2 separate regions of the Homo sapiens genome follow, and region 2 is linked to region 1. Evidence: fine-mapped expression QTL. Tissue or cell type: whole blood. Region 1 holds a variant in brackets; the other region holds the start of a gene. All regions are shown on one strand. Distances are between the middles of the regions.

Region 1 (5,382 bases):
AAAATCTGGCAATACTTCCTTGAACTAAACTCAGTGTCCGCCCCCCCAACCCCCGATTGATGCCAGACATTTGCCACCCTGGGGACTTGATCTGAGTGACCTTGGGTTCATAGGAGATGCTGGGCCCTTGGAATTGATTGTCTACCCTGTAGGAATGGAGGCCACATCTCTGTTCTGCCTGGAGAACTTTTTCATCATGAGTTTGTGGAATCCGCCAGCCAAGCCCACCAGACAGGACTAAACAAACGACTCTAGGGGGAAAGGCCAGGCTTCCTGAAAGTCTAAATTGCTTGAACTAATGCTGGCATTTCAGCATTTTGAGCCATTCAAGCCACATGATGTCAAACTTCCTCTCCTCCACCCCCATCTCCTCACCCTGCTCTCTTCTGCCTCTTGACCTTCCTCATCTTGTGGCTCTGGCAAAACTCCAGGGTGGCTATTCAACCTGTCTCAACACACCCTGTGCCAAAAAAAAATAAAAAGAAGGAAAAAAAAAAGGGGGCAATTTCTGTCTCCAGGGCAAGGGCTGCTGGGCTCAGCCGGGTGGATGTTGCCAAGAGCGCAGCAATAGCTCCAGGCTAGGCAGGGAGCACAAAGGAATCTTTAAATTTAAAACTCACTGCAGAAAGGAATTGAGCACATTCTCAACATTCTGAGTCTGTGTGTTTATGTTTAAATATTCCAACCACTAGCTTACATACCATCTAGTAAGTAAATCACGGTGAATATTTATCGAGGACCTACTATATGCAAGGCACTCTGCTCACCATTATTTACTTGTGGGGACACTATGGCTTTCACCCAAAGCTGTCATTCTCTAGGCTGCCTTTTCATATCTACAAAGCAAGGGAGTTTACATTGACAGTCTCCAGAAATTCAGCTTTAATGGCTGGGTGCAGTGGCTCAGCCATTGTATCATTGTATCATTGTATTGATATGCCTGTAATCTCAGCACTTTGGGAGGCTGAGGCAGGCAGATTGCTTGAGTTCAGAAGTTCGAGACCAGCCTGGGCAACATGGTGAAATCCTACAGAAAACTCTATAAAATTTTTTTTTAATTAGTTGGGTGTGGTGGCTTGCACCTGTGGTCCTAGATACTCGGGAAGCTAAGGTGGGAGGATGGCTTGAGCCCAGGAGGTAGAGGTTGCAGTGAGCTGTAATTGCGCCACTGCACTCCAGCCTGGGTGACAGAGCCAGACTGTGTCTCAAAAAAGAAAAGAGAAAAAAAAAGAAAAAGAAAAATTCAGCTCTAAAATTGTGACTCGTTCCTTGCTCTACTGTGAGCATCCTGAAAGCAATTGTGTCTCCTTTCTCTCTCTCTCCCAGCATCTAGCACAGGCCATGACATGGAGGAAATGATGGGTAAACGTCCATTGAGCAAATCAAACTTCTGAAATAAGGCTCTTCAAGAAGGTTTCAACAACCAACCAAAGGCTGACTCACATGCCCACTCCAAATGAATGAGAAAACATATTATAGAATTTTCCTGTTGTTGAACAGCTGGGCACAGAAAGCTTTTTTCCTCCATGAAAGAATATTGACTAACTTATGCAAGCCTCTCAAAATCTAAAAGTATTTTCCAACACACAGTCAAATTATATGACAAACAGCCCTTTATTTTAAAATAAATATCATCTTTTGAAGAACTAAGTTGGAAGACTTACACTTCTTAATTTCAAAACTTACTACACAGTGACAGCAATCAAGATATTGTGGTACTGGCGTAAGACTAGACATGAAAATCAATGGAATAGAATACAGAGTTCATACATAAATAAGCCTATACATTTATGGTCATCGACTTTCAACAAAGGTGCCAAGGGAATGCAAAGGAGAAAAAATAGGATTTTCAACAAATGATGCTAAGAACAGCTGAATATCTACATTCAAAAGAATGAGCTTGAACCCCAATCTCACACCATGCACAAAAAGCAGCTCAAAATGGATGATAGACTTAAATGTAAGAAGTAACACTTATGAGATTCTTAAAATAAAACATAGGGATAAATCTTGACTTTGGGTTAGGCAAGGATTTCTTTCTTTCTTTTTTTTTTAGACGGAGTCTCGTGCTTGTTGCCTAGGCTGGAGTGCAATGGCACGATCTCAGCTCACTACAACCTCCATCTCCCAGGTTCAAGCGATTCTCCTGCCTCAGCCTCCCGAGTAGCTGGGATTACAGGTGCCCACTGCTGTGCCCGCCTAATTTTTTGTACTTTTAGTAGAGATGAGGGTTCACCACATTGGCCAGGCTGGTCTCAAACTCTGACCTCAGGTGATCCACCCACCTTGGCCTCCCAAAGTGCTGGGATTACAGGCATGAGCCACCGCACCCAGCCAGCAAGGGTATCTTAGATACAATATCACAAATATGGAAGCTAGAGGTAAAAGTTGATAAATTGGACTTTCATCAAAATAAACAATGTCTGCACTTTAAACAACACTATCAAGGAAGTGAAGAGACAGCCAAGAGACTAGGAGAAAATATTTGCAAATAATATATCTGATAATGCAATAGTATACAAAATATATAAATATTACAACTCTACAATATGATGACAAAAATTCAATTTAAAAATAGGCAAAGGGGTCGGACATGGTGGCTCATGCCTGTAATCTCAGCACTTTGAGGGGCCAAGAGGGCGGATTGCCTGATGTCAGGAGTTCGAGACCAGCTTGGCCAACAGGTGAAACCCCGTCTCTACTACAAATACAAAATTAGATGGGCAAGTTGGCGCATGCCTGTAATCCCAGCTACTCGGGAGGCTGACGCAAGAGAATCACTTGAACCCGGGAGGCAGAACTTGCAGTGGGCTGAGATCATGCCACTGCACTCCAGCCTGGGCAACAAAGTGAGACTCAAAAAAAAAACAGGCAAATAATTTGAATAGACATTTTTCTAAAGAACATGTGCAAATGGCCATTAAACACATACAAAGATGGTCAACATCGTTAGTCATTAGAGAAATGCAAATAAAACCACAATGAGTTGGCACTTCGCTCCCTAGGATGCCTACAGTAAAAAAGATGGGCAATCGCATGTGTTGACAAGGATGTGGGGAAATTAACCAACATACAGTGCTGCTGGGAA[T/G]GTAAAATGTTGCAATGCATTTGAAAAATAGTTTGGCAGTTAAATTTTCAACACATGGTTACCATATGACCTAGCAGTTCCTCTCCTAGTTATATATCCAAGAGAAGTGAAAACATATGTCCTAGTCAAAGACATGTGCACCAAGCTTCGCTGCAACATGATTCATAATAGCCAAAAGGTATGAACAACCCAAATGTGCATCAACTGATGAATGGATAGACAAATGTAGTGCCATACTCACACAACAGAACGCTACTCAGCAATAAAAAGGAATCAGGTGCTCTTACATGGTATAATATAAGTCAGCCTCAAGAACATTAAGCTAACTGGAAGAAGCAAGTCACAAAAGACCATGTAGTATATGATTCCACTCATGTGAAATATCTAATGGAAGCAAATCTATCGAGACAGAAAGTAAATTAGTGTTTGCCTAGGGCTTGACATGGGGAGACTGGGGAGTGACCTCTATGGGTACGGAGGCTCTTTGCGGAGTAATGAAAATGTCCTGAAATATGACTGTGATGGCAGTTACACAACTCTGTAAATATATGAAAAGCATTGAATTGTATACTTTAAAAGGGTAAATGTTACGCTGTGTGAATTGTATTGTATCTCAATAAAACTTGTTTTAGTAAAAACATCAACTCTTGAGGGCAAAAAAAGCCTTAGTTTTAGCCAAGTTTCTAACATCTAGCAAATGGCAAGGGGAATTAAATGCTGGAGTCTAGTACTTAGGGGTGACTTTTTACATTTATTATCTATTTAACTATGATAATAGTAGCATCTAAGTTCCCAGGACAGAGATGATATCATTATCGATCGCCATTTGCTATTGGGAAGTTTTAATATCTACTAATGTTTTTCAGTCCCTGGAGCTAGGAAGTCTCACTGCTTGAGGATTCCATTAAGTCTTCCTGCATCTTACTGATGGGGAAAACTGAGGGAACGCTACAATGGTGTATTCAGACCCGTCACGAGAGCTAAATAGAGTGGGAGCAGAGAAGGAAAAGGTTGGCCTCTGAAAAATATACTCAGTACAGGGCACTGACGGTCAGGACCTCGGCAATGTTGGTAATGAAACCGCCATTGCAAAATAATGACTGAGACAGTGAAAGAGATCTGACCTGACTCCGCCTTGCTTCTAACCTCCAAGCTGTCCTTGTTTATTCCTGGGCTGAGCTAACTTTGGGAGGGACTTAGTTTATAGTTTAAAACAAAGACGATAATACCCCTTTCCCAAAACAAACCTCCTTCTTACCTGGGGACTAGACTGCCTTTGTAGAGCTAAGAAATTAGCCACAAGATTAGAAATTATGGTTTAGGAGTCACGCAATTGGAGGCTACGGGATTCTGACCCTCCCTAAGCTGCTCCTAAGATCAGGGCTTGAGATATTTTGCAGATCCTGCACTTGATGGATCAGCTGGTACCTCCTCAGGAGCCTTCTCCCCATTTACCAAATTATTCTTAAAAACTCTGATCCCTGAATGCTCAGGGAGACTGGCTTGAGTAATAATAAAACTCCAGCCGGCCGGGCGCGCTGGTTCACGCCTGTAATCCCAGCCCTTTGGGAGACCGAGGTGAGCGGATCACGAGGTCAGGAGATCGAGACCATCCTGGCTAACACGGTGAAAACCCCGTCTCTACTAAAAGTACAAAAAATTAGCCGGGCACGGTGGCAGGCACCTGTAGTCCCAGCTACTCGGGAGGCTGAAGCGGGAGAATGGCGTGAACCCGGGAGGCGGAGCTTGCAGTGAGCCGAGATCACAGCCACTGCACTCCAGCCTGGGAGACAGAGCGAGACTCCGTCTCAAAAAAAAAAAAAAAAAAAAAAAAGACTCCAGCTTCCTGCACAGCTGGCTCTGTGTAAATTATTTGTTCTCTATTGCAATTCCCCCGTCTTGATAAATCGGCTCCCTCTAGGCGGCGGGCAAGGTGAACCCACTGGATGGTTACAGTAACAGCAAAGGTCGCACCGTTCCGGCACAAGGAAGACCTTCAGGGAAGAGTCATGAAGAGAAGGAGTGAATGATGTATGTGTGGAAGAACAGTATCAAGCTATTCCTCTCAACCATTCTTATTTGACACAATCACTATTTGTTTTTGAGAAAATAGATTATAAAATGGCCCTGCTTCTTGCGAGCAGCATGGATTTTCTTTCTCCTCCTGGGTTTTCAACTGTAACTTGCCCTTTTCTCAGTCAGTTGCTGGGCTGAATTCATCAGTTCAACAGCTGACCCACCGTGGACTGCACGTCTGACGATTTGGCGTATGTATTTACAACACGTATCTGAGA
Region 2 (5,382 bases), 48 kb after region 1:
GATGGATGGAAATGTATATTTGTATTTACCTCTGATAATTTCTCAAAAGTCTTCTTAGTTTGAGCACTAACATTGATTCTCTAGTTATGCTTGCTACACAGAATACAGGGCATCTATTTATCTGAAAATATTCATTATCCCATATTGTACTAGAGCCATATCCATTCTTTATCTGACACATCTGAAATTAGTTGTTATTTATCTGAAATTCAAATTTAATTTGATGTACCACATTTTAATTTGAGAAATCAGACAAACCTAGTTCTTAACATACCACCTTCACAAGACAGCCTGGCTAGAATACTCCACTGGTCTCTGAGCAAAAGCCTAATCCCCTTAAAGAGTCTAAGCCCATTAACCTATAGCAGCCAAACTGAGTGCTGTAAACAACCTCTATTTTTGAGCTCCTGATCTTCTCCATTAGTCAAGACAAATTAGAAAAACAATAAGAAAGAGAACAACCCATCATGACAATGGAAGAACCAGGCCATGATCTTTCCAAGCACAAACTGCAGCATTTTAGCATCTTCCCAGCACTGCTTCCCTGTCTATCCCTACCTGTCCTCCCCTGCCTCTGACATTAGTCATCATGATGCCTTCCTGCTTCTCCAAGGGACTCAGGATCTGATCCTTGCCTCCCCATCCAACCACCTGCCTGCCTGCCTGTCTCCCTCTCTGCACTCCAGCCAGCTTGCATGTCTCTTCGTTCCTCCCCTGCACCAGGCTCCTTCTTGCCACAGGATCTTTGCACATGCTCTGGCTTCTGCTTGGAAAGCCTTCTCTGTCTCCTCCTCCCTCCTCCCATTCCTTGGTTAACTCTTAGTCATCCATCATCACAGCTGCAAAGTCACTTCCCTAGGGAAGCTGTCCCTTTTTGCAGGCTGGTCAGCTTCCTCGGATCTAAGCTGTTAAAAGTTCTGTGTATTTTCCCTTCTCTACACTTACCATAGTTGACATTTTATTTTTGCTCTGGGATTATTTGGTTAATGTGCTAGAATCAAAACTCCAGAAGGGCCAGAACACTATGGCTTTTTTTGTTATCACTATGTTCCCAGCACTCAGCAAAAGAAAAATAAAAAACCAGACCCTCATTGTCACCTAATGGTGGTACTGTAATTCTCTCATTCCTTCCAAATGTATCAGCTGAATTTTTCAATAAAGAAGACATTTCCCTTATCAGCTCTTCCGTAACTGTGAGGTACAGTTTATACAAGAAAAGCAGAATAAATGCTTGAATTTTCCCCTTCTATTTACCAGTTTTCAGAATAATCAGAGGTGACAGACTCCTCCAAAGGTAACAAATGAGTTTGGTTTTACCGTTTTGAGTATTATGAATTCATGGATGTATACATGTTGATGTGTTTCAGTCCACTAAAGTCATTATTCTTTGGGATGCTCAAATTGTCTCATTGTTGGCCAGTAGAAGCCTGGGCCCTTTTGCCATGACCTCAGTTGTCTTTAATAGCTGTCCGGCTTGTATGACAAGACATTCTTGGATCCCCTTGTACAGCTCCTGACACCAATCTGGTTCAGCTATTTCTTCAAGAAGGCCTGGTTCCTTGTACATTCTTATTCACCTGTGGTTTCAATTCCCTAGTCTCTAAAAGAAACACTACAAATAGAAATTCTGTTCTGATTTTTCTCCTGTACAGCGGACCTGTATACCTAACAGATGACTGGGCATTGCCATCTCTGCCCACAACACACATCCTGAATTTGACTTGTTTGCACATGAAGTCATCATCCCTCCCCAAGATGGGCTCTCTATTATGCCTTCCTTGGGGATCAGTACTTGGAGTCGGGTCAGGGCAAGATACTGTTAGTGACATGTGGAATTCAGCCACACCATCATGAGAAGGTCCTCTCTGTGTGTTCTGGCTAAACCAGCCTTCTACCAGGTTAGCACGATTCTGGGCTTTGCAACATTCATGACCTGTTTGAGGGCACTGAAGGAGATGCTCAGCCACATCCCTTAATTTGCATGAGCCTGTAGGAAAAATATGTTTAAGAAGTCTGGCTGTCTGAGCAGGCCAAAGGAGAAGATGGAAGAGAAGGTGGTTTCCTGAAAGCATGAAGCTGTATCTGTTCATATTTTGACACCATCCCAGGAAGAAGAGGCTGAGGTAGGAAAGTACAGTCAGCTCTGGGAGTTCCCTCTGGAGAAGCTGGCTATGAGACGTGGAAGAAGCTCCCCAGCTGCAGTAGAAGGCACGAGAAGGTTTCAGGCTTTCCAGGTGGGCGTAGAATGGGCAGCAGCACAGGCATAACCTGGAGTGGCACAGGTGCCAGGGAAGAGGGCAGACGCCATGCGTGACATAGCAAGGGGATCACACCGCATCCATTGTGCATGAGACCACTTTTCACCACCCAGGCGACTCAAGGAGATAACTGGATGGGTGGTTCCAGGAAAAGAATGGACATCCTGCTAGGCCATCATATGCTGTCTCAGAGCACTGAGGTTTGATAAATGTGGTGAATTTGGAGGCACTCACAGCTGAGTCCCAGCACAGAGTGGGCACATAAGCAACACCATTTTCTCATTGCCCAAGCCAGCCCCTGCCCACAGCACCTCCACTTCCCAGAGCCACACCCAATCAATGGCCAACTTATGATTCTAATCTTGAATGTCTGTCGAGATCTTTTCCTTCTCCATCACTAAGCTCTCTCCTTTAAGTAAAAATTTTTCTCCTGGAGGAATGCCTCCTGGCTGATGCTTCTGCAAATCACCTCACTTCTCTTCAAGCCCTCCTCTGTTACAGACTATTCCAAATTTTTTTTTGTTTTTTTGTTTTTTTGTTTTTAACTTTTGCCTACCTTGTCGGCTCACGCCTGTAATCCCAGCACTTTGGGAAGCCGAGGTGGGTGGATCACCTGAGGTCAGGGGCTCTAGACCAGCCTGGCCAACATGGTGAAACCCTAGCTCTACTAAAAATTCAAAAATAAGCCGGGTGTGGTGGTGGGTGCCCGTAATCCCAGCTACTCAGGAGGCTGAGGCAGGAGAATCGCTTGAACCCAGGAGGCGGAGGTTGCAGTGAGCCAAGATCGAGCCACCGCACTCCAGCCTGGGTGACAGAGTGAAACTCCATCTTAAAAAAAAAAAAAAAAAATGCCTACCTAAATCTAACGTAAAACTTTGAGCTCACTCTGAAATATATTCATATTTACTTACAAGGGGAAAATGCCCTATGAACTGAAAATTATGTGTATTTTAGAACATACACAAAAGAGAAGTTAAAAGAAAATGAGAAAAATAAATAGATGTGATAATACTTTATTTCATTACTCCGATTAATAGTCTTACCAAACTCACCCGAAGACTGCCTGCAAAGTTCTTGAAGGAGCTTGGGATTGTAGGTGCTTTTGATGTTTTATTCAGACTGGACTAGATGCTTTAACCCTGAAGGTGCATCTTACGTATCTAAAAAAGACTTCCCTTAGGGCTAAACATAACAGAAAAGTGATGAATGAAGGAATCTGTCCAACATGTCATCTTTGATTGAAGATAAATACATTCATCTTATGGTTCTAGCTCTATTAAATTGAGTCTGTTTAATACACCCTGTCTGCAGCTAAACTAATTATTTCAGGCTGGATTTTCAATTTCTTACCTAGCCCTAGGATAAAACACAGAGTTGAATGGTTACGTAATCACCAGGTGCCGCTCAAGTGGTGATTTTTCAAATCAAGTATGGATCTCAAAGAAGAGAAGCAAATAACAACAGAGATACTTCTTGTGCTAGGGCCCTGGTTGCAGGACGGTGTCCCACCAGGCTACAGCTCTTAAATGGCAGAGCTGCTGCTGACACCTCTGTCGTTCTTGCAAGATCAAATACCAACTGCGTTGACTTCAAATCTGGCTTAAAAATAGGCCTAGCAGGCATAGTTTTCTCATCAAAACAAATTAGCCTAAAAAATAGCATTCCGAGAGACCAAGGGTTAGGAAAATTGTCCTGTGAGTGTTTTGAATTCTTTGTCACCCTTCATAACTGGTGCCGTTCATGAGGGAGCTTATTGGCTTGGGGGATGACAACTTGAACAGCAAAACAGGATGTGTCACCACCAGGCCCCCTGCTCTGCTGCAATCTACGAGAATTAATCAGTTTTGGGTTTTTTTGTTGGTGGTGACGGTGGTTTTTTTCCTTTCTTTCTTCCTTTTTTATGTCAGCGTCTCAGATGGGCACACACTGAAACAGCTTCTTATTTGCATGCGGTGTGGCCTGGCGAGGGTGAACTGAGGACACGCAGAGCTCCCTCTGACTTGGCACCGGCAGGAAGTCGGCGGCAAGAAGCTACCACTTTTCAAGCCTGGGTGGCTTTTTCTTTTTTCTCTGTCATTCATTTTGGAAGAAAGCATAAGTTTGATTTCAAACAGAACACAAAAACTTGGAAGGAGGGCCAAACACAGGCAGGCAGATGATTCTTGTCCCCACTTTTACTTTTTTAAAATTTAATTGGAGATGCTGCAGAGGTGGCAGAAAGGGGCCAGAGGATGGTAGGTGCAGACTCGCTGCGGTGACAATGCCCCGGGCATCCCCTTTCTGCACAGTGGGGCACGGCATCCAGGGGCAGCCTCCTCTCCAGACACCTGGGCAAATCCAAATCTGTGTTTCTTTGTCATTCACCTGAGGAGAAGTCCCTTATTCCAACGACCACTCCCGTGTGAGCGGTGACAGGTTTGAGCAGAATGAGTCAACGCTGAAATGATGCCTGTGCCATTTCACAGGAATTTGCTTCTTTCTCGCTGGTTTTCAGATGCAGTTCGAGGCTTCCGTTTTTTTCTCTGGATTTGAATCTCGTCCACAGATCACTGCTGCCTTGCAGCTGAGTGTGTCATTTGCAGCCCTGCTGTCTGGGGCCCGAGACTCCACACAAGATGTGCTCAGAGAAGCAAATGAACAACTCTGCTCTGATAGGGGCAGCAAAGAGGCAAGCAGCTACCAACAGAAGGACACTGAGTTTCTGGGGGTGGCATCTGGCCAAGGTTCCTGTCATCTCTCTCAGATAAAACACCAAATTCTTCCCCAACAGAAGCAGCAAAAACATATAATATAGGCCAGCGCAGCGGCTCACACCAGTAACTTATGCCTTGGGAGGCTGACGGGGGAGGATCACTTGAGGCCAGGAGTTGGAAACAAGACTGGGCAGTATAGCAATATCCTGTCTCTACAACAAAATTTTAAAAATTAGCTGGGCATGGTGTTGCATGCCTGTAGTCCCAGCTACTTGGAAGGCTGAGGTGGGAGGATCACTTGGGCCCAGGAGGTCAAGGCTGCAGTGAGCCATGATTGCACTACTGCATTCCAGCCTGGGTGACAGCGAGACCCTGTCTCAAAACAAGACAAACAAATAAACAAAAAAAACCATAATGTAGAGTATTTATAA

The links. PIP is the estimated chance that this variant, and not a neighbour inherited with it, causes the effect.
Region 2: it holds the start of LINC02656, and the variant in region 1 is fine-mapped to the expression of LINC02656 in whole blood (TOPMed, PIP 0.97).

Annotation. Positions count from the first base shown.
Region 1 is chr10:6,394,597-6,399,978 of GRCh38, reverse strand. LOC124902370 (a long non-coding RNA gene) reads left to right here. Exons shown (of 2, transcript XR_007062044.1): 2 at 1-1,650. It also overlaps a transcript of PRKCQ not described here. Among named protein-coding and RNA genes, the nearest start is that of LINC02656, 47 kb to the right of the region's middle. The variant T/G (reference allele first, on the strand shown) is at 3,089.
Region 2 is chr10:6,347,029-6,352,410 of GRCh38, reverse strand. It overlaps LINC02656 (long intergenic non-protein coding RNA 2656), which reads right to left and starts at 2,095. Exons shown (of 1, transcript NR_148966.1): 1 at 1-2,095. RefSeq lists a cis regulatory region at 3,901-4,401.